Regions from separate parts of the Homo sapiens genome. Here regions 1 and 3 are each linked to region 2. The links come from fine-mapping of genetic effects on gene expression. A gene starts in region 2. Each other region holds a variant in brackets. All regions are shown on one strand. Distances are between the middles of the regions. Region 1 overlaps HAT1 (histone acetyltransferase 1). Region 2 holds the start of HAT1 (histone acetyltransferase 1). Region 3 overlaps SLC25A12 (solute carrier family 25 member 12).

Region 1 (10,832 bases), 43 kb after region 2:
AACCCTATGCCCCATCTATAAAACTAATTGTGCGTAGCATGAAAAAGATCTGAAATAGTTTCATATAATATGAATTGTGCATAGCATGAAAAAGATCTGAAGTAGTTTCATATTCATTATTCAACTTTAGTATTAGAAATATTTTGAGTTCTATTTGGTTTTTTTGTGTGTTTTTCCCCACTTCCCAGCCATGTTTGAGATGACTGAGCTTGCCAGATAAATAATATGTAACTACATTTAATATTTGTTTTATTTTATATAGTTTGTTTCCCAGGATAACTTTTGAAATTGTGCAGATACAAAAGTGATTCTGAGTAATACTGTAGTGGTTTGATGTTTGAAAAGATGTAATCTTAGATAAACTAGCATTTAACACATTTATTAAAATAGAGTTTTTTCATAATCAAATATGTAGATTGCTAAATTCTCCAGACCCAAGCCCAGCTAGATATTCTTATTAAAAATGCAGGTGATGTTTTTCCTTGTGTGTAAACCCACTGTTGGAGGGTTTTTGTTTTTTACAGTTGCAGCTGATAGCACTGAATTGATTTCTTCCAAAGGAACTATTGATTTAGTTATAGATAAATCTTTTAAATATTTCATGCAGTGAAAATAGCTGTGTATTTGCATTGACATCTAATTGTTCCATTCTTGAAAATTAGGTTTTTCCATTTAGAAATACTGTGTTAGGAATAAGGAATCAATCTTTTATAATGTCTCTTTGTAGAGTTACTTATTTGCTTTGTGGTCAAAGATCATTTATATTGCGTATTCAAACAAAGACTTTTTTCCCCTTATTAAAAACGATTGGGTAGGGGATATGTGGGTCATGGGCTTGCTTCTTCTATCTCAGTTTGCAGTGAGTGTTCATTCCATAGTGCCTTCTGTGTTGTTGATGCCAGCGATACAGTGGCAGACAAAGTCATGGAGCTTACATTCTAGCCAAGAGGAACAGTCAGTAAACAAAATAGTAAATACACAAATTAAATTCAGGCAGTATTATGAAGATACATTTTGCTCATTTCTGAATGATAAAGGAGGAACCAGCCATGTTATAATCTGAGGGTAAAGCTTACTAAGATACAAAGGCTCTAAAAATACAGCATTTTTGGCATTTTTGTAGTCCAGAAAGATTACCAGGGTTAAATCATTGTGGTGATGGAGAGAGGGGTAGGAGATGGTTGAAGGGGATGCAAAGCTAGATCATCATATAGGATCTTGTGTTCTGTGATAGGTGTTTGCAAGAAATAAGAGTAGTTGGCATTCTTTAGAGGCATTCTTAAGTAGGTGGAGGTCATAAACAATGTGATTTATATTTTTAAAATATGATTCTGGCTGCTGTGCAGAGAACACACTGTATAGGGCAAAAGTGAAAGAAGAGACCGGAACATTGCAGTGTTAGAGGTGACACTGGACTTAGTTGTCAGAGTAAGGAACATTTTGGAGGTCTGCTGTTGAATTAGATGTGACAGATGAAGAAAAAAAACGAGAACCCCATTGCCCAAGTTCAATTATGGTACTGTTAACTGGGAAAACTATAGAAGAAATAGGTTTAAGTGGAAACAATAAAAAAATTTTATTTTGGATGTTAGGTTTGAGTCTAATATATTAGGGCTTTGCAGATCATACTGCATAGATGGTCAGCAGCCATAACATCTGCTTAGAAGTTATTTCTTATTAGGATTATGTCATTACATTAATTTTTAATCATCCATTCTTTTACTTTTCCAAGCTGAATGCTCTAGTTGCACCTAAAATTCTTCAGTCACAATTAAGATGCCTATAAAATCTCTACTAGCCACCATCTTTAAAGGAAACATAATTCTGAATTTTACAATACAATAAACTTGATTATTCAGACACTGATGATTTTTTCATCTGGTTGTCCTTGACCTTTGCTTTTATTAACACCTCCTGCTCTGTGCTTGTAATGCCAGCTACTCTGTAGGCTGACTCAGGAGGATCATTTGAGGCCAGGAATTTGAGACCAGCCTTGGTAACATAATAAGACCCTGCCTATTAAAAAAAAAAAATGCTGAACGTGGTGGCTCAAACCTGTAATCCCAGCGCTTTGGGAGGCCGAGGTGGACAGGTCACTTGAGGTCAGGAGTTTGAGACTAGCCTGGCCAACATGGTGAAACCTCATCTCTACCAAAAGTGCAAAAATTAGCCAGGTGTTGTGGTGCGTGCTTGTGGTCCTAGCTACTCAGGAGGGTGAGGCAGGAGAATCACTTGAACTCGGGAAGTGGAGGTTGCAGGAAGCCGAGTTCGCGCCACTGTACTCCAGCTTGGGTGACAGAGCAAGACTCTGTCTCAAAAAACGAAAACAAAAGCTAGGCATGATGGCATGCTCCTGTAGTCCCAGCTACTTGGAAGGCTGAGACAGAAGGATCTCTTGAGCCCAGGAGGTCAAGGCTGCAGTAAGCTATGGTTACACTACTACATTCCAGCCTAGGTGACAGAGCAAGACTCTTGTCTTAAAAACAAAAACCTCCTGCCTTTTCTTGGGGGTAATTTCATTGCCTTTTAGTGAAGTAGTGGGTAACTAAGATTGTTGTCTTGCTAATTGCTAGCATTTCTGGGAAAAGTTTGGTACAGGAAGTTGAAATAGATGGATAAAGTTTGTATTAACTGTGAATTTCAGTTATTTTATCCTAGTGTCCCACTAATTGGATTGAATTTGAGAGGATATGAGAGCAGATTTTAAAAATTTTATGGAGTGTTTAGCCTCTTTCTAGGAAAATCCTACATACTTCCAGAAATTTCGAAAAAATCTTTGGTAGACTAGTAAAATTTCAAATTGTGATGGTGTTCTTGATAAGTAATACTTTTTATGAAATATCATAAAGAGCTTTAAAAGTATATATTGACAAGTTTATCTTGTTTAGTTCAAGTAGCAAAATACTAATGCAGTGTAAATAAACATAATATGACCTTTGTTTTTCCATTAGTGAAAAAGTTCACACTTTTAATTTCTCAACAATACATTCTGTAGTTAAAGCTTAAATATTATCAGAGAACATGAGATTGAGAACATTAAGTAGATACAGAATTTCTTTTGCTTGTTTTTTTTTTTTTTAGCATATTTTAGGTAGTCTTAGAATTATAGTTAAGTCTATGTACCACTTTAGCCAAGTAAAGAACAACATGTTACCACCTACTTAACGTGCCTTTAATTTCAATCTCAAAAATAACTAGACAAATTTAGACAAATGGTGCTGCTTAAGATAAGATGTTAGAGAGGTTATTGGGTTTTCAAATGTGTATAAATACAAATATAAACATTAAAAAAATAGATTACTAATTATCAGGCATATCGCTTTATTCAATAATGAGGAAATGCAAAAATTGCTCCATATGAACATGTTCATGTGTAATAAAGTACAGAACACTGGAACTTGAAATGACCATAGTTAAATAGTATACAATCTAAAAATATTTCATAATGACCCACCTACCAGAATATCTAACTAGAATACTTTTGCACTTTCCTTTTTAAAAATAAATTACCAAGCGTTAGGAAACCATTTGTAAGAGATGTCTTTGTTAATTAAATATATCAGGTTGTATTCTGGTTTCTTTTTTTGAGACGGAGTCTCACCCTGTCACCCAGGCTGGAGTGCAGTGGCGCAGTCTTGGCTCACTGCAACCTCCGCCTCCCAAGTTCAAGTGATTCTCCTGCCTCAGCCTCCCAAGTAGCTGGGATTACAGGTGCACACCACCACGCCCAGCTACTTTTGTATTTTTATTAGAGACAGGGTTTCACCATGTTGGCCAGGCTGGTCTCAAACTCCTGACTTCAGGTGATGTGCGTATTTTGGCCTCCCAAAGTGCTGGGATTATAGGTGTGAGCCACCATGCCCAGCCTGGTGTCTTTTTAAAAATTTTTTTGAAATTCTAGTTCCCTGGTGTGTCTAGTCAGCTGAATTTCTTACCCTTTCTATATTTCTGTATAATTTTAGTTGAAGTTTAGAATAATGCTCTGGAATACAGGGAATTTTTCAGTGATCTTCAGAAATAGATTCTAAACTTTTAGCCACAAACATTGGAATTAAAAAGTTTCTGTTCATTTTTAACTCTATTCAATTAACAATGATTAAATGAGGTCTTGCTCTTGTGCTGATTTTATTATCTGATCAGTAATCCAATCTGAAAGACGAATATTTTAAATTAAACTAAATTATATATTTGAGAAAAGAGTACAGATCTCTAAGACATGGTAGTCAGGATTTTTTTTTTTCTTAAAGCAGAATCCATTTAATAGAGAAATGCAGACATTTTCCCTTTAGTGAAGCGAAGTTGTAAATTCTAGGTTGAAGAACTATTTGGTTTTAAGTTGTATATTTTATGTAAGTATATCAGATACATATTTATATACATAACTATTTATAAATATATATTTATATAATTATATAAAGATTCCTTGCTTTAAAATTGCCCTTTGCCCCGTAAAAATTCTTAATGTGTAAACTTACACAAAGCAAACTATTTTATTTGAAGATATTTATTACAGGAAATAGACATCCTTTGAAGGCTGAAAGCCCTTTTTCAACTTTGTTGGGCTCAAACCTTCTGGTTGCTCTGCCCGCCACCAAAAGTGCTACTTGAAACTTAGAGTTTCTGAGAAGTCTTTGAAGTAGATTTGATACAAGATATGTAAAGTGATTTGCAATGCCTTCTTGAGAAGACAGGACATAAGGAAAGTTTTTAAAAGTTAAAATTATACATGCTATGAAAGTCTTAAAGTGATTTTTAAACTGATAGATTATAAATCCCTTTTTAAAAGTAGTTTTTCTTGGCTTTTTAAAAACCTTAACTAACATACTATACTGTTTTACTCATCACTACTTTGGATTTTAATTGCTACACAACACATCTATTACAGCTATCCCTCATTATGACAGTTTCCTTGATAGCTGTTGAAATTGTACTGATACTATAAAATATGCTTACGATGGCCTCTTCA[T/C]GTTAGCAATTTCAAGGAAAAATATTTATCAAATAGTACTTTAAAAATAAGCAAAAACTGTCCTATGAAATGCAGTTTATTTGATCTAGAGTGTGAATGAGTTGCAAGGACTGATGTACATATTAGAAATAAACTGTTGGGCAAAATGCTGAAGAGCTATATTTTCAATAATAGGTCTTTTTTATACCTATAAACAAATTATATATAAATGTTGGTGGTACCAGAGCATTGAAAATAAAACTTGTTTGTGATAAACGTCATCACTGGTTCTCTATCCTGAAATGTAACTGAATCATAATAAAGTGCTATTCATCTGCAGGTGCATTGCTTCTACTTAGTTAAAAGATGGTTGAAAGGATAGGAATTAGTAGCATGTTGTATTAGCCTTTTGTAGTGTATTTTGTCCTAAGCATCTTAATTTCCCTGTTTTGAATGCTAAGTAGCAAGGGTCTTGGTTTAGAACTAATACCCATCATGCATGTAAACGGTATGAAAGAGCTGCTTAGTAAGTTAACACAAAGTGTTCTTGTGTCAGTCCTTGTGGAAATAGATACAATACAAACATTACAGCTGAACTCACGGCAAACTCCATTAAGTAAAAACCTGGCCTCATTGTTCAGGAAAAAGTTTGAATAGAATACAAGCTCATTTTGTTGAATGTAATGTCAGGCTTTTAGGGACTGTATTGAGGGATAAGGTTTTGTTAAGTTGAGACCAATTCATTAAGTTTTATTGCCTGGTGAGAAGCAGCAATACTTTATTGTAAGACTTCATCAAATATTCATGGTTAAAGAGAAGTAGTAAATGTATTCAATCAAGTGGTCTTTTGGGATTTTGAAAAGGATTATGAAGTCTGCTCAGCTGATAACATTGATAGAGGTTGTTTAACAAGGGTAATTTTAATCTCCGAGTTTAGTTTTGTTGTCCAGTCTTGTCTCTTTTTTACTGTCACAAATCCAGGTCTGTAAGAATTGTGTCACATTCTAAGGATAAAAGAATGATATATCCATTCATATAATTTATGTTATTTCCTAAATATGTATATTTTTAAGTTATCATCTTAGTTTGAGTTTGGCATATGAGGGAATTGTGACCCATCTAGTTGTGAGATTGCTATTCATTTGGTCAGACTCTAGTCTCATCTCACCACTGCTGGTGATCTTTTCATGTCTTGGATAATATGATTTCTTTGACACATATAAAATAATAAGCAACCTTTTGCCTTGGCCAGTTCAGACTGTCATGAAGGGGTATAGTCAGCTGTTTCTGCATAATGGAAATGTCCATAGCATTGCCCTTATTATTGTACTTGGTATCAGGTCACCTGCCTTCTCTTATTTACTTTTATATTATGCTCATCTCAGTTTTGTGTGATGCAGTTTGTGCACAGGAAGCTCATCCTTTTCCAATTCGCTGTGTGTTTACTTCTTTAGTTTTCAACCAAAGTTTTGTAATTTGTGTTGGTTTTGTCAGTTTTAAAGAAATAAACCATATTCAACTTAAAGTCGAATTTGTTATTAATTTTTTATATCCTTTATTCTTTAGGCAGATGATGTTGAGGGCAAAATTAGACAAATCATTCCACCTGGATTTTGCACAAACACGAATGATTTCCTTTCTTTACTGGAAAAGGAAGTTGATTTCAAGCCATTCGGAACCTTACTTCATACCTACTCAGTTCTCAGTCCAACAGGAGGAGAAAACTTTACCTTTCAGATATATAAGGTAAAGATAAATCTAAATATTTATTGAGTAAAGTTCTATTTGCCTGAAACCTGTATGTAGTTTTGTTGTCAGTGATTTATTCTAACTGCAGTAAACAAGTTTTAATCAGCATTATAAACCAAGATCTATTTTGTGTGTATGTCTGTATCTATGTTCACATCTTAATCTGAGACTTCTAAACATTTTCCCACAGGATAATTTTGTGTTCTGCGGACTTTCACTTACCTTTGTGATGAGTTTCACCTGACTTTTCCTGGCTTTTTCCCTAGGCTGACATGACATGTAGAGGCTTTCGAGAATATCATGAAAGGCTTCAGACCTTTTTGATGTGGTTTATTGAAACTGCTAGCTTTATTGACGTGGATGATGAAAGATGGCACTACTTTCTAGTGTAAGTACAGTTCTAAAGCAACAGTAGACCTTATTACCTCCACAAAGCCAGCATTTTAATTGTGGCAGCCCAATTATTGGGACAGTATAATGATATTTTTCCCAGGAAAGAAAAACTATTGTTTATGAGGCTTGAGTTTTCCTTCATTATGCTTTGGGAGACCTTGAGAATAGAGCTGAATTAAATGCTGTTGTCCGTTAGGGCCCTGAATGTAGGCTTAAACAGTAAAATGAGCTTTGCCTGTGTTTTCTTTTACTTGCCACCTATTCATCTTTATAATAGGCAAGTGCACTGAAGTGATGTAAAGAGGTCTGATTTATCCAAGTTGCTGCACACCAATTAAGTGAATTGTACATTCAGAACATAGCAGGTGTACCCATTGGGCCCTCACAGAGTAGCTTGCTGACACTGAAAATTCAGTCAGAGAATGGAAAAGAAAATGGACACTGCATGGGAGCGCGACTGTAATTGACCTGCTTGGCTTTCTGTTTTATCTGCAGATTTGAGAAGTATAATAAGGATGGAGCTACGCTCTTTGCGACCGTAGGCTACATGACAGTCTATAATTACTATGTGTACCCAGACAAAACCCGGCCACGTGTAAGGTAATTGGCAGTATAACACGTGCCTTGTCTTTTATTTCAGAAGAAGGAACTGCTGAAGTTTCCAATACTTGTTATAATAGTGTTGATTTGTTTAAAAAAAAAATCACTATTATTCATGGGCTATGTACTGATTTATTTCATTGTTCCCTTTGAAACAGTGTAGAAGATTAAACTAATTTTGAGTATCTTGATAATTTTTGGGTATCTCAAAGGTGGATTGAAAAAAAGATCACACAAACTTTAAAGTGTTTGTAATACTATAGTGATCTGCAGGTTTTAAACTGGTCATGTTATGATATTTTAATTTTAAAATAATTTCTTTACTGTAGTCAGATGCTGATTTTGACTCCATTTCAAGGTCAAGGCCATGGTGCTCAACTTCTTGAAACAGTTCATAGATACTACACTGAATTTCCTACAGTTCTTGATATTACAGGTATGTAAAATTTGATTTGTTACTGAAAGAGCCTTTCTAAAAATGTCTTCTTACTGATTGATTTTATTTTTGTCAGAAATAACTATTTTAAACAGCAACATTTTCCTAGGGTGTTTAAGCCATCTAAAGATGGCTTAAGTTTATGTTTTAGAGCATAAGCCTTTGTGGGGATTGGATTACATCCCTAACTGTGAAGTGCATAATGGAACAAATTGAAGATAATGAGCTGAATATATATGGGGAAGTCTTGGTCAGGCGTAAATACGTTGAAAGTATGGTATAACTTATTTGTTCACTTTATTTGGCAAACAGTTGCATTATTTAGAGGCAGCCTGCACTTTAATTTACATGTAGGGGCAGAATATTATAAACTTTACTGAGAAAAAAAGTCAAGGTAAATACTTCTTGAATAGAATACACATTTCCTAAAGTGTGTGTTTTGTATTCCTAAAATGCATGCCTTCACAACAGTAGTAGATAAGGTGAAATGTAGGCCTATTTGTTTTGGAAATGTCTTTCAGTATGGATTAGCCATAGAAGTAGTAGTATGAATAGAATGCTTAGGAGAAGGAAAGACGACTTACTCGACTTACTCGACTTGACTCTTCAAAAGGAGAAGGCATTATTAGATGGAGTTTCAGATAATATGTTAAAGTGTGATCCACCAAAAAACAAAGTGGCCCAAGGAATATTTATGTTATTTTCTAACTTTCAAATTTGTTGTTCATAAAATTGCTGATGAAACTGAAAGTTACCTTTTTCTTTTATTGAAAAATACTTTACCAGATAGTTACATGCAAATTGGTATTAAAATTTATTAATCTTACAAGTTTGAATTTGGATACATCTTTGTTACAAACTATACTATTTAACATGCACTAAAACATTAACATGTTAAAAAATGCTATTTGGGAATTTTGTTTAAAGACACCACCTCCCACCCACCCACCCCCACCAAAAAAAAAATGGTTGTAAGACTGGCAACCACATAAATAGGCTAGTAAGCAGATTGTTTCATCCTTCTTTATATAGACTAGTAATCCAAGGTAAATAAAATTGAAGTTGCTTCAGAACAGTGAATTGATCTGTAGAATAATAAACTGGAGGGAAAGCACGTTGTCTTTAAAAGGGAGTTTCACATTTATAGAGGTGAATTATCTTTTCATCTGACTTTCCTGCTACTGTTAAATGGGTTGGAAACTCAGGAGATAAAGTAGTAGTTACTAAACTTCGTTTATAACAAAAGTTATAAATTGTTTAAGCGACAACTTCACTAGCTTAGTGACTTATAAAATTGTAGAAACATAATACAGACTATGTCACTTCTTTTAGTTGAGCAGAAAATTGTTTAGCTTCTATTAACTTATAGAGCTTAGACTTGCTGCTACATGAAGGGACATTTTTGGTGATTTTAATGTGGAGTTCACATAAGTAGTCTTTGTCTACTCTAGTGGGTAATGTGCCAGCAGGGGTTGTTTCTCTGAAGCCTCTTAACCACTTTCTTCTGTCTACTCCAACCAATAAAGTCCTTGATACTTAGCACCAATTAGCAGATAAAGAATTTTATTTCTTAAATCTCAGTGAAGAGTCATCAATAATGGTAGCCTTTATTCATTGGTGTTATTCATTAGAAACTGAAGTCTCTAAAAAGAAAAGACTAAACATGCTAAAGGACTTCTGAATTTGACAACTGGGTATTGGCCTTTATTTTCAGCATTAACATTTCTCAGCATTTAAAAATACTAAAAATGCCTTATCAGCTGTTCTCATTAAGATATTTATTTCTCCTAGATTTCCATACCCAGTCCTTAAAAAACAAAACTGCAGATTTTTCTACTCTTCTGTCATTTAGTTGCCTGTTTCTCCATTATTGTGTGTGCTTTTTTAGCTTTGTGGTTCTTTTGCAGGCTCTGGATCTCCATTTGCAATCCAGAATATTCTTTATATTGAGATGGCCTTTTGCTTACTTGACAGATAGCCAGATCTAATAATAATTGAAACTTCCTGTAGATGGCCTAAGTTATATCTTACTTCCAATGGATGGGTGTTTGTGGTATAATTGCCACCCATTTTCATTTTTTTGCACTCAATTTTAAGGTAAAATACTGGCAGACAATTCCTTGTATACCATCTGCCTTTTGAAGATACTATTCTCTTAAGATGTACAGCATTTGAATACATCTCAGTTGTATAACTTTATAAATAGAATCAATGATCTTGTTTCCTCTGGACTTCTGAAAGGAGTTGCATTTGGCAATAGAAATCGATTCTGGGCTGGAATACATATCAGTATTATTATCTATCAGTAGTACATTAAGAGCTAATTATATTTGTCCTTTAAATGTACTTTATTGTTCTGGGATGTGCCATATAGCTTTTTAGAATATTATGTGAATTGTTTATAACTTAGGTGATTGTGCTGTTATCTCATTTCCCTTCTTTAGAATATGATTTTTTATCACTAATATGTATGTTAATATGAGAAGCTTTAAAAAAACGATTGCTAGATGATGTATTACATTTAGAAAAAACTCAGTTTTTGATCCTGCATATCATTGTAGATTTAAATTCAAGAAAATTTTATCTTTAAATATGTTGCTTATCTTTGTAGCATAGAAACAAAGGAATTGAAGGATGTCATACATTATTGGGTGTCGTTTTAAGTTCATTTCAGACTGACACTTTCAAAGGGCTTAAAGATTGAGTGGT
Region 2 (10,832 bases):
TCCGTCTCAAAAAAAAAAAAAATAATAATAATAATACTTAAAATAGCATTTTAATGATAGAATGTATAATATCACAGTTATTATTGTATTACCTACCAAAAGTAGACAAATACATAATTAATGCCATTCTAATAAATTAGTTTCCAAAAGTAAAGCAGGCATCACTGGACAGTCATTTTGAAAACAGGTATAAATAATTATAGTGCTTGTTATTTTGGCCAATCTTTGCTTGTAAATAATGACAAAATGCAAAATGGAAAATATTAGTTTTCAACTAATTGTTCCTAGTTTTGATTAAATTGCTTCCCTTAGAGTCTGTGTACCATAATACGTCGAATGTAGAGAAGAGGATAGGGAGTTAGCAACCATGTCTAAAAACCTCCAAAAAGATGGATAAGTTTCTCTTTTTTTTTTTTTTTTGAGACGGAATTTTGCTCTAGTTACCCAGGCTGGAGTGCAATGGCGTGATCTTGGCTCACCGCAACCTCTGCCTCCCGGGTTCAAGTGATTCTCCTGCCTCAGCCTCCCGAGTAGCTGGGATTACAGGCATGCACCACCACACCCGGCTAATTCTGTATTTTTCTTTGAGACGGGATTTCTCCATGTTGGTCAAGCTGGTCTCCAACTCCGGACCTCAGGCGATCTGCCCACCTTGGCCTCCCAAAGTGCTGGGATTATAGGTGTGAGCCACCACGCGCAGCCAGATGGATAAGTTTCTAACTGTGAAAGAAACCAATACATCATCATTGAAAGAGACAAATGGTATTAAAGAATAAAAAAACTCATTAGGCTGGGCGCGGTGGCTCACGCCTATAATCCCAGCACTTTGGGAGGCCAAGGAGGCAGATCACTTGAGGTCAGGAGTTCCAGAACAGCCTGGCCAACATGGTGAAACCCTAAAATTACAAAAATTAGCTGGGTGTGGTGGCGGATGCTCACTGTAGCCCCAGCTACTCGGGAGGCTAAGGCAGGAGAATTGCTTGAACCTAGGAGGTGGAGATTGCAGTGAGCCGAGATCATGCCACTACACTCCAGCCTGGGCAGACTCTGTCTCCAAAACAAAAACAAAAACAAAAAACCTCATTAATCCCCATCTCTAAATTCCCCCTAAAGGCAACTATAGTTAAGTTTGTGAGGTATGCTTTCAGATGTTTTCTGTTTATATCAAAATATATTTTTATATAAATGAAATAACATTATATTTTTTGTAATTTATTTTTTAGCCTATTGTATAGGAGATAGAACATATTAGCCAGCCCCTTGTGCTAGTAGTTTAGGCTATTTTCAACTTGCCAGTGAAAATAATACAGCATTGAACATCTTTGTTTTAGTGTATCTTTGCATTTCTGTGAAATAGTTTTGCAGTACAAATGCTTAAAAGTGGAACTGTTGTTGCCTCAAAGGATACACAAATTGAAAATTTTGTTACATTTGTAAAAATGTGTTAAAATTTCTAAATTGCCCCTCAAAAGTTACTAATTTATACACGTATGGGTAGTACATTAGAGTTGGAAAATAAAGACTGTTGGTAATTTTTGTGTATTTAGGATAGGGGTCCTCTTACAGTAGTTTTCAACATGAGCCGGTCCATTTTTATTTTCTTTCTTTCCTTTTTTTTTTTTTCTTGAGACAGACTCGCTCTGTCGCCCAGGCTGGAGTGCAATGGCGGGATCTCGGCTCACTGCAACCTCCGTCTCCCGGGCTCAAGCAATTCTCCTGCCTCAGCCTCCTGAGTAGCTGGAATTACGGGTGTATGCCACCACACCCGGTTAATTTTTGTATTTTCAGTAGAGATGGAGTTTCACCATGTTGGCCAGGCTGGTCTCGAACTCCTGACTTCATGTGATTTGCCTGCCTCGGCCTCCCAAAGTGCTGGGATCACAGACGTGAGCCACCGCGCCCAGCCTATTTTCTTTCTTGTATCCCATTTGGAAGTCATCTAGCTGGATAATGGTTTCTGGATAATTGCTCTGGGAACTGAGACTCATAACTTTATGCTCATTAGCACTACGAGCTAAAAAAATGAGCTAACTAACTACTGTTATTTGTCTGTGTAAAGGTATGCATTTTGAAATGAAGACACATTACATACATGCATTTTTCTTAAAATTGATTTCCTGCATCAATTTTCTGATGACCATATATATATATATATATTTTGAGACGGAGTCTGTCTCCCAGGCTGGAGTACAGTGGCATGATCTCGGCTCACTGCAAGCTCCGCCTCCTGGGTGCATGCCATTCTCCTGCCTCAGCCTCCCAAGTAGCTGGGACTACAGGCGCCCGCCACCACGCCTGGCTAATTTTTTGTGTTTTTAGTAGAGACGGGGTTTCACCGTGTTAGCCAGGATGCTGTCGATCTCCTAACCTCGTGATCTGCCTGCCTCGGCCTCCCAAAGTGCTGGGATTACAGGCATGAGCCACTGCGCCCGGCCCGATGACCATATTTTTTTGTGCCAAATTTTAATCCATTCTGGAGGTTTCAAAGCAAGATAGTGAAGTTTATCAGTCCATATGAACTTGAGCCTGTACCAACACATGGTTGCCAGTTCATACCTAATAGTGTAATATGGCCCTTTTCTCTGAAGAAAATGCCTTTTCCAAATCTCCCTTACTAGAATAAATGTTATCATAGTAATACCACTTCATACCTGCATAGAGTTTTAGAGTTTACAAAGGTCGTTCACAAATATTATTCCGTTTAGTTTTTACAGCAACCCAGTGTGGTGACTGGGCAGTACTATTATCTCCACTTAATAGATGCAACAAGGTTGAACAAGCATGAAGTAGTAGAACTGGGACTAGTAGGGCAGTAAACTTCCCACAAGATATGTTGTCTCTTCCATATATATATGAGGATAGCATATTCCTTTCATAGAAATTTTATTCCATGATTGTAATAGTTGCTTTCTTAAATTCTCTTTAGAACAAAGTAAAATATAAGTTAAAAAAGGAAAGAAATCCCTACAAAAAAAAAGAGAATTTTTTTCCTTTTGGGTAATTTTCACATTACCTTTCCAAAATAAGTCATTCTTTTATCTTTTAGGTAAACTGTACCAAAACATCTATTCTGTAACATTAAAAAAAAAAAATGTGAGGATGGACATGGTGGCTCACACCTATTATCCTAGCATTCCGGGAGGCCAAGCTGAGAGGATTGCTTGAGGCCAGGAGTTTGGGACCAGCCTGGGCAACATACTGAGACTCCATTTCTACAAAAAACAAAAAAATTAGCTGTGCACAATGGCACACATTTGTAGTCCTGGCTATTTGGGAGGCTGAGAGGCAGGAGGATCTTTTGAGCCCAGCAGTTGGAGGCTGGAGGCTGTAGTGAGCTATGATTGCATCATTGCAATCCAGCCTGGGTGAGAGTGAGACCCTGTCTCAAAAAAAAAAAAAAAAAAAAAAGTGAACATCTAAGACGAGGACAATATAAAACCTCAATTCTGCAAGCAAATCACATTAAATGCTAGTCATACAATATATCAGTAAGTTTCATCATATTTTTTTCCTACAACTAACCATAATATCACAGGACTAATAATCTGTGATATACCACAGTTAAAACGTAATTCTTCTTGATTTCTTACTTATAAAGATCATAATTGCTGGTCAGCAATTGATCCATAGATAAGGTGATTTTGGAAAGAAATGATAAGTCTTGCCATTTTGAAAAGAAAAGTTTTTTTTTTTTTTTGAGATGGAGTCTCGCTCTCTTGAGCAGGCTGGAGTGCAGTGGCACTATCTCAGCTCACTGCAACCTCCGCCTCCTGGGTTCAAGCGATTCTACTGCCTCAGCCTCCCAAGTAGTTGAGATTACAGGCTCATGTCACCACGCCTGGTTAATTTATTGTACTTTTTAGTAGAGACAGGGTTTTACCATGTTGGCCAGGCTGGTCTCAAACTCCTGACCTCAGGTGATCTGCCTGCCTTGGCCTCCCAAGTGCTGGGATTACAGGTGTGAGCCACCGTGCCTAGCCAAAAATGATTATTAAAGAAAAAGATTGTTTTCCTTTTTTGATCCATAATGTCATTAGTCTCATTGATTTCAGTTTTCTGTCTTAACATTATGACTGTAATTTCTTTTTTTTTTTTTGAGACGGGGTCTCGCTCTTGCCCAGGCTGGAGTGCAGTGGCGGGATCTCGGCTCACTGCAAGCTCCGCCTTCCAGGTTCACGCCATTCTCCTGCCTCAGCCTCCTGAGTAGCTGGGACTGCAGGCACCCGCTACCACGCCCGGCTACTTTTTTTGTATTTTTAGTAGAGACAGGGTTTCACCATGTTAGTCAGGATGGTCTGGATCTCCTGATCTCGTGATCCGCCCGCCTCGGCATCACAAAGTGCTGGGATTACAGGCGTGAGCCACCACGCCCGGCCTATGACTGTAATTTCTTGTGTATCATTAGGTTTCAAGAAAAAGGATCTTGAAACCTTTTCTTGGGATCACGACTGTAATCCCAGCACTTTTGGAGGCCGAGATGGGCAGATCATCTGAGGTTGGGAGTTCGAGATCAGCCTAACCAACATGGAGAAACCCCGTCTCTACAAAAATACAAAATTGCTGGGTGTGGTGGCGCATGCCTGTAATCCCAGCGACTCAGGAGGCTGAGGCAGAAGAATCGCTTGAACCCGGGAGGCGGAGGCTGTGGTGAGCTGAGATTGTGCCATTGCACTCCAGCCTGGGCAACAAGAGTGAAACTCCGTCTAAAAAAAAAAAAAAAAAAAAGAAAGAAAAAGGATCTGGGCATTCTCAGTACCTTTTCTGATCTTTATCTTCAGGAAAGCCATCTCTATATAGTTGAGCAAATAAATACTGGGCTGAGTATCTGATGAACTGCACTCTGCATAGGTTGCATACTGAGAATGAACTTGGGCAGTTTATCTTTTCTGGGCTTTGGTTTCCTCATCTCTAAAATGAGAGGGCGTGTTAGTTCTAGACCATCATCCCAAGGGTCCATTTTAGCTTTAGCGTGCATCACTGTAAAACCTGTTAACAAATATTTGTTGAGATAAGGAATTCTGGTGTATAGCCAACATTGTGGGAATATTTGTGGATACCTAAATAGTGGTTTATCCTCTGGGGAAAGCAGTTCCTACAGCTACTAAATACTAACAAGGCCTATGGCTAAAATCAGGTAGCACCTTGTGATGTAATTCAAACCACTAGGACATGTGGCATGCAAGACTACATCAGGCTACTTGAGGTATTTATTAGGTAACAATTTTTTTTTTTTTTTGAGACGGAGTCTCACTCTGTTGCCCAGGCTGGAGTGTAGTGGCGCAATCTCGGCTCACTGCAACTTTCGCCTCCAGGGTTCAAGCGATTCTCCTGCCTCAGCCTCCCGAGTAGCTGGGATTACAGGCGCCTGCCACCATGCCTGGCTAATTTTTGTATTTTTAGTAGAGACGGGGTTTCACTATGTTGGCTACACTGGTCTCGAACTCCTGAGCTCAGGCAATCTACCCGCCTCGGCCTCCCAAAGTGCTGGGATTATAGGCGTGAGCCACCGCGCCCGGCCTAGGTAACGATTTTTGCGCGCTAAACGGTTCTTAGTAACCTGCAGAGTGAAAGCAGAGTACCTAAATATCATACTGTATACGTTAAAAACAGGGGAGAAAGGAAAAAAGGTGTTAAAGTTTACAGCAAAATGAGAAACAAATGAGGAAAACAAGTGAAAGCTTCTCCCGCAACTGAAACTCAACCTCTACATTTTACCTAGGTAAAATGGTAAAATTGCCCACAGGGCTCAGGTGTTTGGATGCACTGTCCAGGCCAAGAGGAAAGATTTTCAGCCAGTCTCCAAAACATCTCAGGGACGGGTATGGAAAACAGGCGTAAAGTGTCTGTATTGATCAAATCAACCCCAGAGAAACTTTCCTAGGGCCAGAGAGCATCTCAACCGCGAAAGTCCGTTTGCGGCCTCCTTCTCCACTTCAGGCCTGCAAAGCGGCTGACGGCATTCGCAGTGGCTAGGCAACGGCCCGCGCAGACTTCTCGGCGTTAGCCCCGCCTCTTGAGGCGCTTCCGCCGCCGGGCTCCTGGACACGCCTCCTTTAATTGGCTAACGTCACGCTGGGAGTGGGCGGGGAAAATATGTCAGACTGTGCGGTCACTTCCGGCCCGGGAGCGCGCGGGTTGATTCGTCCTTCCTCAGCCGCGGGTGATCGTAGCTCGGAAATGGCGGGTAAGTTACCGGGAAAAGTTTACCAAGGGGAGGAGGCGGCCAGATCGGGGATAGAACGCCGAGACGGTGGTGACAATGCCCGCCTAGAACTTTCGGGCTGTAGCCTGGGTTCCAGAAGGCCTGCTTGGGACCGGAAGCGCGGAACTCTCAGCCCAGCAGCTCCTTGTTGGCGGCGGTCCGCGCCCCCGCCCCCAACTGCTTGGGGTTCTGCGCCTTCTGCCAGCAATCCGGCCCCTACCGAGGGCCGAAGACGCCAGGGAAAAGCGTCATGATTTGGGCTCGTAAAATGCCACATGCCTTGGGGCCTGTTTCTCTTCCCATTCCTTTTGTCCACTGCTGCTTGCTTCAGCTCTTGTACATCTGGTCCTGTTCCCGCCAGCTGATTTTAATGCTCAGATCCTCCTCCTCTTCCAGGTCTCCGTCTACCTTCCACTACAGTCAACTTCTGAGCTAGCGCATTGCTGCCTTGCCCTGCTCTGGCGCTCCCACTTGGATCTCGACTGACTTCGTAGTCGTCTCGTTAATCTGTCACACTTTAGTATTCCGAGGATCGTATTTAGATGCCCTTTGAGAAAGACTTTGTTCCTGAACTGCTCCCTTCTCTTTTAGGGTTGGACTACTATAATACAATTCTCTTGTGTACATTCTAGAGACCCTTCAAGTTACAACATTTAATAATGTATAATTGCTATTACTTTGTACGTGTATTAAGGCTGTTTTGGTGTGATTATTTTTTTCGATTACTTATCTTTTGAAGTTATGGACAGTTTCTTTTTCCTGAGACAGGGTCTCTCTGTCGCCCAGGCTGGAGTGCAGCGATCATAGTTCCGGGCAGCTTCCAACTCCTCGTAGGCTCAAGCGATCCTCTTGCCTCAGCCTCCCGAGTAGCTAGGACTACAGGCATGCGCCACAACATTCGGCTAAAAAAAAACAATTTTTTTTAACCTTTTAGAGACAGAGTCTGGCTGTATTGCCTCAGGCCGGTCTGGAACTCTTGGCCTCAAGCCATCCTCTCGCCTCAGCTTCCCAAAGTGTTGGAATGACAGGATTGAGCCACTTCGCTGGCCTTTGTTGCTTTTATCATCTCTTTACAGGGCATTCCTCATAGTCTCTCTACATTAACCATTCCATTTTTATGAATATGTGGGATAGACAAGCTGTTGTGTGAGCTCTACAGATGTTTAAAGAAGGACTTTTCTACCAGATGGAGATTGTAGGATCTTGAAGTACCACAGAAGAGGGAGGACGTACTCTAAGAATTACATCTAAATTCGAATTTTGGGCCCATCATTTAGTAGTTGGATGCCCTTCAACTAAACCTCTTTCTAAGCCTGAACTTTTGAATGTAAAATGGGGTTGATGTAATACCTACTTATAGAATTGTGCAGATTGAGCTAATATATGATTTCACAGGTTAAATTTTGTTGCTTACATTCCTCGAAGTAAATTCTGTAATCTCGGTTCTGTAGATTAGGGTCAGAGGGGTTAAGTAATGTGCTCTAGTTCCCTGAGCTTACTAGCTCAGTAAGTGTGTGAAATAGTCAGAATCCAGGAATTCTCACTCCAGACTATTAATCTGTACTGCTTCAAGTCTTTCCCATTTTCTGTGTGTGTGTTTTAACCCCTTTTTGAAGTTTATAGCACATCATTGTACCCCTTTTTATTTTTTGCTTATGGCTTTTTTCTGTCTGAATTTTTACTGATTTTTTTTTTTTTTGGAGACTGAGTCTCGCTCTGTCACCAGGCTGGAGTGCAGTGGCGCGATCTCGGCAACCTTTGCCTTCTGGATTCAAGCAATTCTGCCTCAGCCTCCGGAGTAGCTAGGACTACAGTCACGCGCCACCACGTCCAGCTAATTTTTGTATTTTTAGTGGAGATGGGGTTTCACCATGTTGGCCAGGATGATATCCGTCTCGACCTCGCGATCCCCCTGCCTCGGCCTCCCAAAGTGCTGAAATTACAGGCGTGAGCCACCGCGCCCAGCCCATTTTTACTAATCATATGCCCATTTTGTCAGGAGATTTGTTATCTTGAAAGTTTCTCTTGATAGTGATATCTTCCAATGTTATTTATTATGTATATTATTGAGTAGCCACTATGTAGTAAAACTATTGTGCCAGTAGCTCACAGTTTATGACTTTAGGCATACATGATTTTTAAATATTTAATACAGTGGAAAGATGTTTTCTTTGTGCCCCTGTTCCTCTTCCTTCTTTCTTTACCCATGGTAACTATGGTTACCAGATATTTGTGTATTCTTCTTGAGACATTCCATGCATTATCATTTCCTTATCTGAAGCACTCTGGTAGACTTTTTCCAATACTTAAAATGAAATTCTGTCATAATTATCAGAGGACATTCTCATTTTGCTTTTTACATCTTATAATGAAAAAGACGACTTAGGTATAAATCCTAGCAGGTAATTTGTATTAGTACATGTTCAGAAATGTTAGTAATCTATCATGTTAATTTTCAGGTTTATTCATTTATATTAAGTATTCCTAGTTTATAAGCCTGTATCTCAAAAGTGATTTCTTTTTCTGTTTTGTAATGAGGCATTCTTTTTTTTTTTTTTTTTTTTTGAGATGGAGTCTTGCTCTGTCGCCCAGGCTAGAGGGCAGTGGCATGATCTCGGCTCACTGCACCCTCTGCCTCCTGGGTTCAAGAGATTCTCCTGCCTCAGCCTCCCAAGTAGCTGGGATTACAGGCGCCCGTCACCGTGCCCGGCTAATTTTTGTATTTTTAGTAGAGACGGGTTTCACCATCTTGGCGAGGCTGACCTCGAACTCCTGACCTTGTGATCCACCCACCTCAGCCTCCCAGAGTGCTGGGATTACAGGCGTGAGCCACCGTGCCCAGCTGGCATTCTTAATACATTTATTTAAGAGTATGTGGAGAATGACTTGTGCTTTTATGATCTATCAGCATGTTTTAAATCATACCCCTATTCCACTTATAATAACCCTATTGCAGGTTTGACAATTTAAGTCACTTCCAAACTAAACCTTTTAAAAACCTTTTCTCTTAGGATTTGGTGCTATGGAGAAATTTTTGGTAGAATATAAGAGTGCAGTGGAGAAGAAACTGGCAGAGTACAAATGTAACACCAACACAGCAATTGAACTAAAATTAGGTATGTATGCCATTTCTAAGTGATGTTATGTACATACTGTGTGTGTATATATAATCTTTCATTTTAAATTTGAAGTAAAATTTTATGTAAGAGCAGTTATTTATGCAAATGTATGGTTTTCTGCATTTATTGAACATATTCAGATTTTATTCAGTTTTGATTTATGTCATGGAAGGTGTAGATGTTTGAAAGGTGACAGAATTTTATATAAAAAGGAAAGACGGTGGGGCAAAAAGTAATAAGTATATATAGTTTTAGCCTCTTAAAAATATTTTTTACTTTTTTGCCTGTAAGAATAATAAACAATAGCAAATATTGGTGAGGATGTGGAAAAAAACACTTGTATATTGCTGGTGGGAATGTAAAGTGATATAACTATTTTGGAAAACAGTTTGGCAATTTTCTTTTCTGTCTTTTTTATTTTCTTTCCTTCCTTCTCTTCTTTCATTTCCTCCCCTCACCCCTTTTTTTTCTTTCTTTCTTTTTTAAAGAGACAAGGAAGGTCTCACTCTATCACCCAGGCTGTAGTGCCACGGCATGGTCATAGCTCACTGCTGCCTCCAACCCCTGGGCTCAGGCAGTCCTTCTGCCTCAGCCTGCCAGGTAGCTAGGAGACCACAGGTGTGCACCACCCAAGCCTGGCTAATTTTTATAAAAAATTTTTTTTTTGAGACGGAGTTTCACTCTTGTTGCCCAGGCTGGAGTGCAATGGCGTGATCCTGGCTCACTGCAACCTCCACCTCCTGGGTTCTAGTGATTCTCCTGCCTCAGCCTCCCGTGTAGCTGGGATTACAGGCATGCGCCACCACGCCCGGCTAATTTTTTGTATTTTTAGTAGAGACGGTTTCTCCATGTTGGTCAGGCTGGTCTTGAACTCCCAACCTCTGGTGATCTGCCCACCTTGGCCTCCCAAAGTGCTGGGATTACAGGCATGAGCCACCACGCCTGGCTTATAAAAATTTTTTCATAGAGATGGACCCTACGTGTCTATGTGTCCAGGCTCATCTTGAACTCTTGTCTTCAAGCAGTCCCCTGGCTTGGCCTCCCAAAGTGTTGGGATTATAACTGTGAGCCACAGCGCCCCTCCTGGTTTGACAGTTTCTTAAGAAGTTAAACATAAATGAATTATATGACCCAGGAGTTATACTGCCAGGTATCTGTCTACTCAAGAGAAATGAAAATGTATGTTCACGCAAAAACTTGTACATGAATGTTCATAGCTGCGTTATTCACAGTAGCCAAAAAAATGTAAGAAACCCAGATATATATCAGCTGGTAAATGAATAAAGTATAGTATAGCTATACCACGGAATACTATTTGACAATAAGAAGGAATGAAATTCTGATACCTATTGCAGTAAACCTTAAAAAGATTGTGCTAAGTGAAAGAAACTAAACAAAAACACCATATATTGTGTAATTCCATTTGTATGAAATGTTCAGAAAAGACACATCCATAGAGACAGAAAGTAGTGGTTGCACAGTGGAGCGCAGAGTAACTACAAATGGGCCTG
Region 3 (10,832 bases), 81 kb before region 2:
CTATTGAGTTATGTCTTCAATGGAATAGTGCAAAAGAGGCTCCCTCATGCCTGAGATGGCGGGCAACGTGGCCTTCATTACCTCTGCAGGATGAAGACGTAATTTGTTCTCTGCTCACCACTTGGACATAAACTCAAAAGAGAATATTTTGCATAGTTTGCAAAAGCCTCATTTCCAAGCCAGAAGTCAGAGGAACCCATATGATTGAAAACATTCTCCTTTAAAAATGCAAAGAAATGCTTATGTAAATATCAATGTAACAATTTTAATCATAAAGGTCTATTACAAATAGTGTAGGTAATGATGAGCAAATATATCCCACCCCACCACCCCTCACACACATGCCTTAACCTAAATACAGTTTATATTTGTGTTAGCCTGAATTTGGATACCAGCAACCCAAAAAGCTGGACTCAAATTTTCATATACTCCTCTGAGGATTAGAATTGACTTTTGGTAAACTATAAAAAATTGAGCCTCAAAAAATTGAGGCTATTATAGTAGGTCTATCTAACCTAGTTGGAAAAGATTAAATGAGTCCCTTCCCACTAAGGTACTGAGCCCCTCCCTCTAGGGTTCTCTTCCCTTCTCTCTCCTTCCCTCCCTTTCTCTCTTTCTCTCTCCCTTTATCCCTTTCTTTCCTTCCTTCTTTCATTTTTTTGGTTGGGGTATGAGGTGAGGGCAGGGGAGTGGGGGATGGTGTCAAGGAGGTGAAACGTGTAGGAGAAAGTGACATGGTCCATGTTCAGATTCACTGAAGAAAAAGAACAGAAGTTGATCTTTCTACCCCAGTCTAAATCAGGGATAATGATCTTCAGCTGAAACAACAAAGGCACTCATTGGCTTCCCTCCATTCAAAACAAGCAGTAATCAAAAACTTATACATAAGTACAACGCATAGACAAGAAAACGGGTAAGTGAGGAAAGTTTCACCACTCTATGTGAGGAAGTGGATGACATGAGTTTGCTATTGGTCCAGATGATTACTTTATAGAGATTAGCAGTTTGACAGAACAAAAAACTATGTCTGGTGCATACAGACTGAATGTACAGGTGAAGGGGCAGAGAGAGGAGTGAGCCACAGAGGCTGATGGCCACATATTTCCTCCATACCTTCTGCCATGGGCATGGTTATTAAAACACTGCAGAAGCCAGTGATGATCCCTCCGGCAGACAGCACCCTGAAGGCAACAAAGGAAGGAGCCATCTTTATAGCAAGACCTTGGGAGCCCGGTGGTGTGGAAAGAGGCCAAGATGAAGGCAGTAGTGTCTGGGAGAGTTACTGCCCACTGGAAAAAGTAATTGCTCACCCTTGTCTATAAACTCTTGTTTCCCTTGAACTGGACTCTGTAAATGGAAATAAACAATTTGGAAATAGATGACAGCAAGATGGTGGCTCTGAATAAAACTATGATCCGGGAAAAGATAACTCACCATCACCTCTACCTCCATTACACACACACATACATACATTCACGTACACACACACACATGCACACACACACACACACACACACAAACCTGTTTACTTTCTACCAACCAAGCATGAAATTTGAATAGTTGAGAGTCATATGAGTCCCTGGAGGCAATCCAGGACTCAATGGATCAAAAGGTTTGAGGAAATAGAAAGTTAAAGAACTTGCTTTTTACTTACTGAAACTAAGTTCTCCTCCACAAAAGGAGTAAGCATGTGAGATCTAATGGTAACCATGATGTCACTGAAATCCAGACCAGAAATCATGCCACTTTTGCTTTTGTCTTTGAGTGCAAAGGCTTGTCTTGCATGTTCCAATTGCAGCTCCTGTGAGGAAATTAGAAATAGGGCATTAAGCTGGTTAAACACATTCCAAGTACATGGTTTGGAAAGGAAGGAAGGACAGATATCCTTCCCACACATGTACTTACTACAAAACAAACAATGCACAGATCTGAATTTGCAACAAAACTTTTAATTTCTTTCAAAAAGCATGAGCTTTCTTAAAAATGTACTACATATTACTCCTCAGGAAAAAGAATGAATGAGAGCACATCAATAAAGGAAAGGTAGGAAAAAATAACCCTTAGATTTTACTTGACAAGTTTTCATTACTGAAAACAGAGAATAATGTTTTTGGTGCTTCATTTCAGCCTTTAAAATATACAGTAATTTATCTCTCCTGCTTGAAGGCTTACCTGTCATCAAAGAGTACTTCATGAATTAAGAGTTTAGATTCATTTTCAGTTTTTCAATTTTAAATGTTGCAATCAAAGTCTCTCTCTCTGTCATTCTATAAATGAATTAGAGACCATTTTTTCAAACAAATTTTTCAAATAAACTCAGTGAGAAACTCTACCAACTGGTAAGTGCAATATTCAGTCATTCTAAAATGAAAGTCAGGAATAACAAACTGCAAAAGTAGTGTTCAGCTATCACTGGCTCTGGGCACCGTTACTCATAAACTGTAAGACAGTCCAGAATATCTCTGAACTTTTGAACTATTGGGCAACCAAACTTTGTAATAAGTGATATCCACAAAAACAACAAAATGTTCCAGCAATCCCCTGTGTACTATACAAAAGTCAAAATCAGAGCATTTCTGTTGTGGGGATCCATGACTAAATGCAAAAAACCTGTTAGCAAACATAACAATGGTGCTGCTATTGGATGCCACCGTCACACTCTTTGCAACTCTGTAAATAATAGTCATATCTAAGTATATACATATTATTTAAAGATTACATAATTTTCATTCACATTTACTTATCAAAGACTACAAATTAATGTTGCTTTAACTTTTCATGACATTAAAAGTAGTTTTTATAGAAGTCTCATCATTTTTATTTAATTATATTTTCCTATGGACTTGTGATAACTCACTCCATTTTCCCATGACCTCAGCTCCAACCACTTCACCCTTCAAATGAAGTGGGAATTTTCAATCCATCTACATCATTACATGGATTTGAAATTGGTCCCCATGGCAAAGATATTCCTAAATAGCATCAAAAGTAGACACAGGTTCACTCCCTGTCTTATATCTTTTTCTTTCCTTCTACCTCTTTTCTATCTCTTTCTTATGTCTTTGTCTTCCCTATATGTCTTAATCACCCAGAAATATCAAATGGTAGCCATGGGTACAATTTAGCCTTATTAATAACACTCAGTACTAAAGAAGATGTGGACCTTTACCTTCAAGATGAAGCAGAATGCTCACTGAAGGAGTAGTGTTAGTAGAATAGATTGTCTGTTTTCTATAAGGTCAACAGTTAAAGGACTCTTATTTGTCTTTTAAAGATACGTATTTGAAGGATCACAGATGAAAAAATCATAGAGTATGTGCATCTGGCTTCCAAATGATCCTGCAGGAGGCAGGGTGGAGGGTATAGATAAAAAAGATTGGCCAAGAAGTGGTAATTATTGAAGCTGGTTATAGGTCCAGGAGGTTCATTACACTATTCTCTCTACTTTTGAGTATATTTGAAGTCTTCCAAAATAAAAAAGATTTTAAAAAATAAAATTAATGACTTAAAAATGAGAAGTTAAACACAGAAAAAAAGAAGTTACATATATGCGGCTCTCAGTTTATACAGTATAATTAAAACATCAGGGTACAATAGATATTGTAAAATAGACTCTGTAAATGCAAGGAAAACAGTGAGAGAAAGAGAGAAAGTAATCTTTGGAAGAATCTTAAACACTAATCAGGCAGACATTTCCTTTTTTAAAAAAGTCAGCTCTCAAATGCATATATTTTCAACTTTTCAAGTTTGAGAATTTTATAAGGTGAGTTAGATAAGCACTAACAGGGAAAAGAGTTAGAACAAACACTGGCACCTCCAAATACCCACACCTAAAGCCCATAGTTTCAAATCTGTGCTCATCCTAATGAAGAAAAACAATACTGTGGGCTTATAAAAGGTAAAATAAATAAATCTTGGGTTAAAAAGGTAGGTAGGTAGGTAGGTGGATAGGAGAACTAAAGGAAAGATAAAGAAAGGCAGTTATGCTGAAGGGAAAGATCCTATGCCCTTGAAAATGCATTTCATCTAATTATGAGATGAAAATTAGCAGAGCTTCAGAAACAGTGTGACTGGATGAGAGTGAACTTGTACATTTAACTCCACCGTCTTCCAAAATGCCACTCTCCACTAAAATAACAATAAAAGAACAAAACAAAACAAAACAGAAACGCAAGGACAAAGACAACAGAAAAGGAGAAGATGGCAACTATATTTTTAAGATCAGAAAGCAGAAAAGCAAATGACAACTGACTTAATGGACTCAAAAAAACTAAGCAGAAAAAGCCAAAAAGGAAGCCAATGTACATGACAGGACCCCCAAAAGATTCAATTATTAGCTGCATTGGTACCTCTGGAAGTGATGGTGAAGGTGGAGCTGAAAACAAGGGGCTTAGCTGGATATCTGTTTAAGAAGCAGTTAGTTACCCCTGCCTTACTCCAAATAAGGCCTCCACCCTTTCCCAACCTTGGCAGAAGACTAGAGGTCTACTGTCTGAGGAGTTTAACAGAGGATCTCTGAACCAGCATAGACCACACACAGTTGAGAGGGAGAATACTACAGTGAAAAAAGGTAGTAAACTGAAAGTCCTTCTGCAAAATTGAACACTGAGACCTCCAACTACTTATTACTCAGCAACCAAAACATCAAAAGCCAGATCTAATATTCCAGATTGGAGACTAGACAATTTTTCCCTGATTCCCTAATCCGAAATAAAAGACCTAGCCTAGGCAACATGGCAAAACCCCATCTCTACAAAAAATACAAAAAATTAGGCAGGCATGGTGGCACACGCCTGTAGTACCAGCTATTCAGGAGGCCGAGGTGAAAGGATCCCTGGAACCTGGGGAAGTCAAGGCTACAGTGAGCCATGATCCTGTCACTGCACTCCAGCCTGGGGGACAAGGTAAGACCCTGACTCAAAAAAAAAAGAGAAAAAGAAAAACAGAGACCCAAACAAAGAGTAAAAATAAATAAATAAATGTGGAGAAAGCAGACACTATGCAAGAAGAAAACTTTAAAAAAACAACAAAGAAACCTGTCTTCAATATCTTTGAAGAAGTGAAAGAAAAGAGTGCATCCATGAAACAAGAACAGTATGCTATTTTTTAAAAGGAATATTCAGAAAACCAAAAAGAGTTCCTGAAAATTAGAAATACAGCAGAAATAGAAAATAGAAGGCTCAGAAGGAAAATAGGAGAGAAAAGAAGACTAAAAGGTCATAAATGTAACATTTAATAGTCCTAGAAACTAAGAAAATAGAATAAGAAAAGTAATAAAATTTTCAAGAATTGAAGGACGTAAGTTTCCAGATTAGAAAAGCCCAATGAATGAAGAGCCCAGACCAATGAATAAAAATAAACTCACACCAAGGAATACCATCGTGAAATTTCATAAACACCAAAGAAAAGAAAAAATATTAAAACACTCCCGAGTCAGAGTGGAAAAAGTTTCAAGATTAAATTAAGAATGAGAATGGCACTGTGGCAACACTGGAAACTAGAAAACAAAAGAGCAATGCTTTCAAAATTATAAGGAAAATAAACTCCTACTAGAATTCAATAACCAGCCAAACTATCTTAGCATAATGGTGGAACAAGAGGGATTTGTTTGTTTGTTTGTTAGTTTGTTTTGAGATGGAGTCTCGCTCTGTCGCCCAGGCTGGAGTGCAGTGGCCTGTCCTTGGCTTACTGCAACTTCTGCCTCCCAGGCTCAAGAGATTCTCCTGCCTCAGCCTCCCAAGTAGCTGGGATTACAGGTGCCTGCCACCACACCTGGCTAATTTTTGCACTTTTAGTAGAGACAGGGTTTCACCATGTTGGCCAGGCTGATCTTGAACTCCTGACCTCAAGTGATCAGCCCGCCTTGGCCCCCCAAAGTGCTGGGATTACAGGCGTGAGCCAAAACACCCAGACTGTTTGTTTTTTGAGACAGGGCTCACTCGGTCACCCACGCTGGAGTGCAGTGGTGGGATCATGGTTTACTGCAGCTTCTACCTCCCTGGGCTCAAGTGATTCTCCCACCTCACCTCCTGAGTAGCTGGGACTATAGT[C/T]GTGTGCCACCACACCTGGCTAGTTTTTGTATTTTTTGTAAAGATGGCATTTTGCCATGTTGCCCAGGCTGGTCTCGAACTCCTGGACTCAAGTGATCTCCCCACCTTGGCCTCCCAAAGTGCTAGGATTACAGGTGTGAGCCACTGCCCTCAGCCGGAACAAGAGGTTTTTACATATGAAAAGTCTCAAAAAAATTTTATTCCACTTTCCTCAAGAAGCCATTGCAGGAAGTATTCTACCAAAAATAGGTAAACCGCAATAAAAGAAGAGATAAAATGCAGCAAACAGGAGGTTCAACGTAACAGAACAGCAAATGGATTCTCCAAGGTAAAAGTGAAGGGTGATCACAGAATGACTCCTATGCAGTGAGCTTACACAGTCTGGCTTCTGGCCCTGAAGCAGGTGAGGAAACAACAGGAAAATGGTGCAGCTGCTGTGGAAAACAGTCAGGTGGTTTCTCAAAAAGTTAAACAGAATTACCATATGACCCAGAAATTACACTCCTATGTATATAGCCAAAAGAACTGAAAACAGGTATTCAAACAAATATTTGTATACATATGTTCATAGCAGCACTATTCACAATAACCATAAGGTGGGAACAACTCAAAGGTCCATCAGCTGATGAATGGATAGACAAAATATAACATATTTATACTATATTATACAATGGAATAGTATTCAGCCACAAAAAAGGAATAAAGCACTGATACATGCTATGACATGGATAATTCTTAAAAACATTATGCTAAGTGGAAAAAAAAAAAAACAGATGCAAAAGTTCATATTGTTTGGCCAGGCGTGGTGGCTCACACCTATAATGCCAGCACTTTGGGATGCTGAGGTGGGTGGATCACCTGAGGTCAGGAGTTCGAGACTAGCCTGGCCAACATGGTGAAACCCTGTCTCTACTAAAAATACAAAAAATTAGCCAGGCATAGTGGCGCACACCTGTAATCCCAGCTACTCAGGAGGCTGAGGCAGGAGAATCGCTTGAATCCAGGAGGTGGAGGTTGCAGTGAGCTGAGATCACGCCATTGCACACCAGCCTGGATAACAAGAGCGAAATTCTGTCTCAAAAAAAAGAAAAGTTCATATTGTACAATTCCATTTATATTAAATATCCATAATAGGTAAATCCATAGAGACAGAAAGTAGGCTGGAAGTTGCCAGAGCTCAGGGGAAAGCAGAAATAGAAAGTGACTGCTTAATGGAACACGGTTTCTTTTTGGGATGATAAAAATGTTTTGGAACTAGATATAAGACACTGTGAACGTACTAAATGCCACTCAATTGTGCACTTTTATTTATTTTTAATTTTTTAGATGGAGTCTCGCTCTGTCACCCAGGCTGGAGTGCAGCGATGCAATCTCAGCTCACTGCAACCTCCACCTCCTGGGTTCAAGTGATTCTCCTGCCTCAGCCTCTCCAGTAGCTGGGATTATGGCACTCACCACCTCGCCTGGCTAATTTTTGTATTTTTAGTGGAGACAAGGTTTCGCCATGTTGGCCAGGCTGGTCTTAAAGTCCTGATCTCAAGTGATCTGCCCACCTCAGCCTCCCAAAGTGCTGGGATTACAGGCGTGAGCTACCACACCTGGCCTAAATTGTGCACTTTTAAATGATTAATTTTATGTAAATTTTACCTCAAATTTTTTTAAAAAAGAAAGCTCCTGGAGAGCTCCAAGAAGATGAAATTAATAGAATACCTAATGTGTTTTAAACGCATTAAAAAGAGATCTTAATAATTGGGCCAAGGTTTGAGAATGACTTAGTATTAGTACACAGAAAACTAAACAAATGAAAACTAGAAACTCTAAGAACAATAACTTTAGGCCAGGTGCAGTGGTTCACTCCTGTAATCCCAGCACTTTGGGTGGTCAAGGCAGGCAGATCACTTGAGGCCAGGAGTTCAGACCAGCCTGGCCAACATGGCAAAACCCCACCTCTACTAAGAATACAAAAATTAGCCAGGTGTGGTGGCACACTCCTGTAATCCCAGCTAGTTGAGTGGCTGAGACATGAGAATTGCTTGAACCAAGAGGTGGAGGTTACAGTGAGCCAGGATCACACCACTGCACTCCAGCCTGAGCAACAGAGCCAGACTCTGTCTCAAAAAAATATATAATAACTTCAGCCACCAATAGTATTTACAAAATTATAATAACTCATAGGATTACTGATCTAAGCAGAATCATGACATAATTATATTGGGGGAAAGGGGACAGAAGTCCAAGTCTGTGATAAAGAGGGAGAGGAGAGAGGTGAAAGAACTAGCTTTTTTTTTTTTTTTTTTGAGATGGAGTCTCACTCTGTCGCCAAGGCTGGAGTGCAGTGGTGTGATCCCAGCTCACTGCAAGCTCCGCCTCCCAGGTTCACACCATTCTCCTGCCTCAGCCTCCCAAGTAGCTAGGACTACAGGCGCCCGCCACCACACCCGGCTAATTTTAGTAGAGATGGGGTTTCACCATGTTAGCCAGGATGGTCTGGATCTCCTGACCTCGTGATCTGCCCGCCTCGGCCTCCCAAAGTGCTGGGATTACAGGCGTGAGCCACTGCGCCCAGTCGTGAAAGAACTAGCTTCTAATCTTCTATAGTTAGGATACAATTAAAAAGTATTTAAAAGTAGAAAAAAAGTAGAAGTGCTTTACTATTTAAATAAATGGAAGTAAACACTGAAAGAAACAGCTATTAAGAGTTTAAAGAAGTTGTCTCTGGCGAGGGGGAAATTTAAAAAATAGGAGTGAAATACCATGGAGAACTTCTATTTTTGTAATAAACTTAATAAATACAAAGCGAAGGACACAGAAGAATAGTATATATTGATACCTGTTATGAAAACTAAGCTCACCTGGAGAAACTGCGTGAATTCTGTGTAGTTAAGATGCTTCTTCCGGTTATGCCCAAAATGCAGTCGGATAAATTCACAATCCCAGTTAAAAGGGATATGATGATGAATAATAGTCTGTCCAAAAATTTCTTTGACATTTTCTTAAAAGGGAAAACAAAAATAAATCAATTATATCTGGAATAAGTAGTTTAAACCACTGCAATGTTCCTACAGAAAAAAATTAAGAGAAGTTTTAAAAGTCAATATCATCTGCTTCTATTAAAATAACTGCAATTTTTTTGTGTGCCCAGAAACCATGCGCAGGAACACAACTGATACAAAAAATATAATTTTACACTTAAGAATATGTACCATTGCATATAAGGCCATGAGATTCTTAATTTCTCTTTATTTAATTTTAATTAGAAAGTGATTTCTATCTTACATCATAAATGGCTGCTATTTTACATCCCGTATAAAATCAATAGTGTTTTCCCAGTTTCTCAAGGAGTCGAATTAAACCCTTTATCAGAAGCATGAATACCTAAATTACAGTATAATGCAATATTTGTCATACTAAGTATGGTTTGATTGAGGCTTGATTATTACATTCACACTAGCCTGAATATGTCTATTGAAGATAGGTATAAGAAAAACTATCAAAAGCATATCATTAGCTCAGCAGCAAGCACCTTATTAAAAGCTTCTGATATTGTTAAAAATATGGTCTTGACACAAAGCTTCAAAATCCCCATAAAATCCATGATTATTAGTCTGAACTATTAAAATATTTTAAGATAAGTTAAATTAGTGTTTCACTTTTAAATAAAGAGCTAAATACAGTACACTAATTTTTAGATAGGAACTAGTCACACTGTGTAACATACAACCAAAACCCTCTGGCAGCTTGTCTTCATGCACTAACAACGTTATTTACATTCTTACAGAGTTCTATACTTACTATAAAAGTCAATTCACAAATGACTGGTACTTTAACAAGCATAGACTGGATAAACTAATTTAGAAGCTCATGCCAAAAAAAAAAAATCATGAACAAAGTTAAGAAAGCAGGAAGCCTGTTTAACTGATGTCTTAAGAACAAAATTATTTTCAAATTTCAGCCAATTTTATTAGTGAAAGAGTTTTGCCATCGATAGCTATCAGTTATACTAGAGAATTAGTAAATACACATTTAAAGTTTTATAATCTCCAACTATGCTGTTTTCTCTAATTTCTGCAAATTCTTTAAATAAGATACTGATCTCATATTGTAAATGGTTTAATGGATTCCCTTTAGTTTTATATACATACACTTTTTCTTAATAAAAGCATTACTACTGGGATAGGGGAATGTAAGAATTCTGAACTGGACGTTCTACCAGTCTAGAGTCAATATAATAGCTCTGAATAGATTGCAGCAATCAGCAAAGTTGGAAGAAGGCATTGGATGTCACTGGGGAGATGGGATTCTCATCTTTTCTTTGAAATGGAATGCAGGATTCATTTCTTCCCTAAGTAGGGACAAATACTTCAAAGTTTTCAATAGGTCAAGCGTTTTCACCTTACATAAATACAAATTTAAAAAGCAAAGAATTAACCCAATAGCAATTTGTGGGATCCTGGTTTCTAACCAACACAAAAGATGATCCTTAAATCTATGTGAAACTTCGAAGTTGTAAAATATGTTAAAGTTTACAAAACAATTAAAATAATAAAGATAGCAGAAAATATTTAGGGCTACAAATATTGTAGCAGATTATTAAAGATTTTTAGGATCTAACTTAATTAATTAGCTGTTTCTAGTCCCAAATTAATTAATTTCTTACTTTTAAGGTCTAACAAAAAGAAGTGTTTCATCTTCAAGTTAAAAAAAATTAAAAATGGAAAGCAAATTAGAACAAATTACTATATTTAATTAAGTAACATTACAATTATTAAAGGGAATAGTTAT

Evidence for each region. PIP is the estimated chance that this variant, and not a neighbour inherited with it, causes the effect.
Region 1: its variant is the best candidate, but not a certain one, in a credible set for the expression of HAT1 in neutrophils (BLUEPRINT, PIP 0.62).
Region 3: its variant is the best candidate, but not a certain one, in a credible set for the expression of HAT1 in monocytes (TOPMed, PIP 0.55).

Annotation. Positions count from the first base shown.
Region 1 is chr2:171,958,827-171,969,658 of GRCh38, forward strand. HAT1 (histone acetyltransferase 1) reads left to right here. Exons shown (of 11, transcript NM_003642.4): 5 at 6,512-6,691; 6 at 6,961-7,082; 7 at 7,583-7,687; 8 at 8,017-8,123. Among named protein-coding and RNA genes, the nearest start is that of METAP1D, 36 kb to the right of the region's middle. RefSeq lists an enhancer at 5,017-5,966. The variant T/C (reference allele first, on the strand shown) is at 4,967.
Region 2 is chr2:171,916,324-171,927,155 of GRCh38, forward strand. HAT1 (histone acetyltransferase 1) reads left to right here and starts at 6,138. Exons shown (of 11, transcript NM_003642.4): 1 at 6,138-6,184; 2 at 9,214-9,318. The coding sequence starts at 6,178. It overlaps LOC105373740 (a long non-coding RNA gene), which reads right to left and starts at 6,066. Exons shown (of 3, transcript XR_923579.2): 1 at 5,716-6,066; 2 at 4,757-4,908; 3 at 626-720. LOC105373739 (a long non-coding RNA gene) reads right to left here and starts at 478. Exons shown (of 3, transcript XR_923578.1): 1 at 445-478. RefSeq lists enhancers at 5,574-6,222, 6,363-6,412.
Region 3 is chr2:171,835,467-171,846,298 of GRCh38, forward strand. It overlaps SLC25A12 (solute carrier family 25 member 12), which reads right to left. Exons shown (of 18, transcript NM_003705.5): 5 at 8,903-9,042; 6 at 1,655-1,801. Among named protein-coding and RNA genes, the nearest start is that of SLC25A12, 53 kb to the right of the region's middle. The variant C/T (reference allele first, on the strand shown) is at 6,051.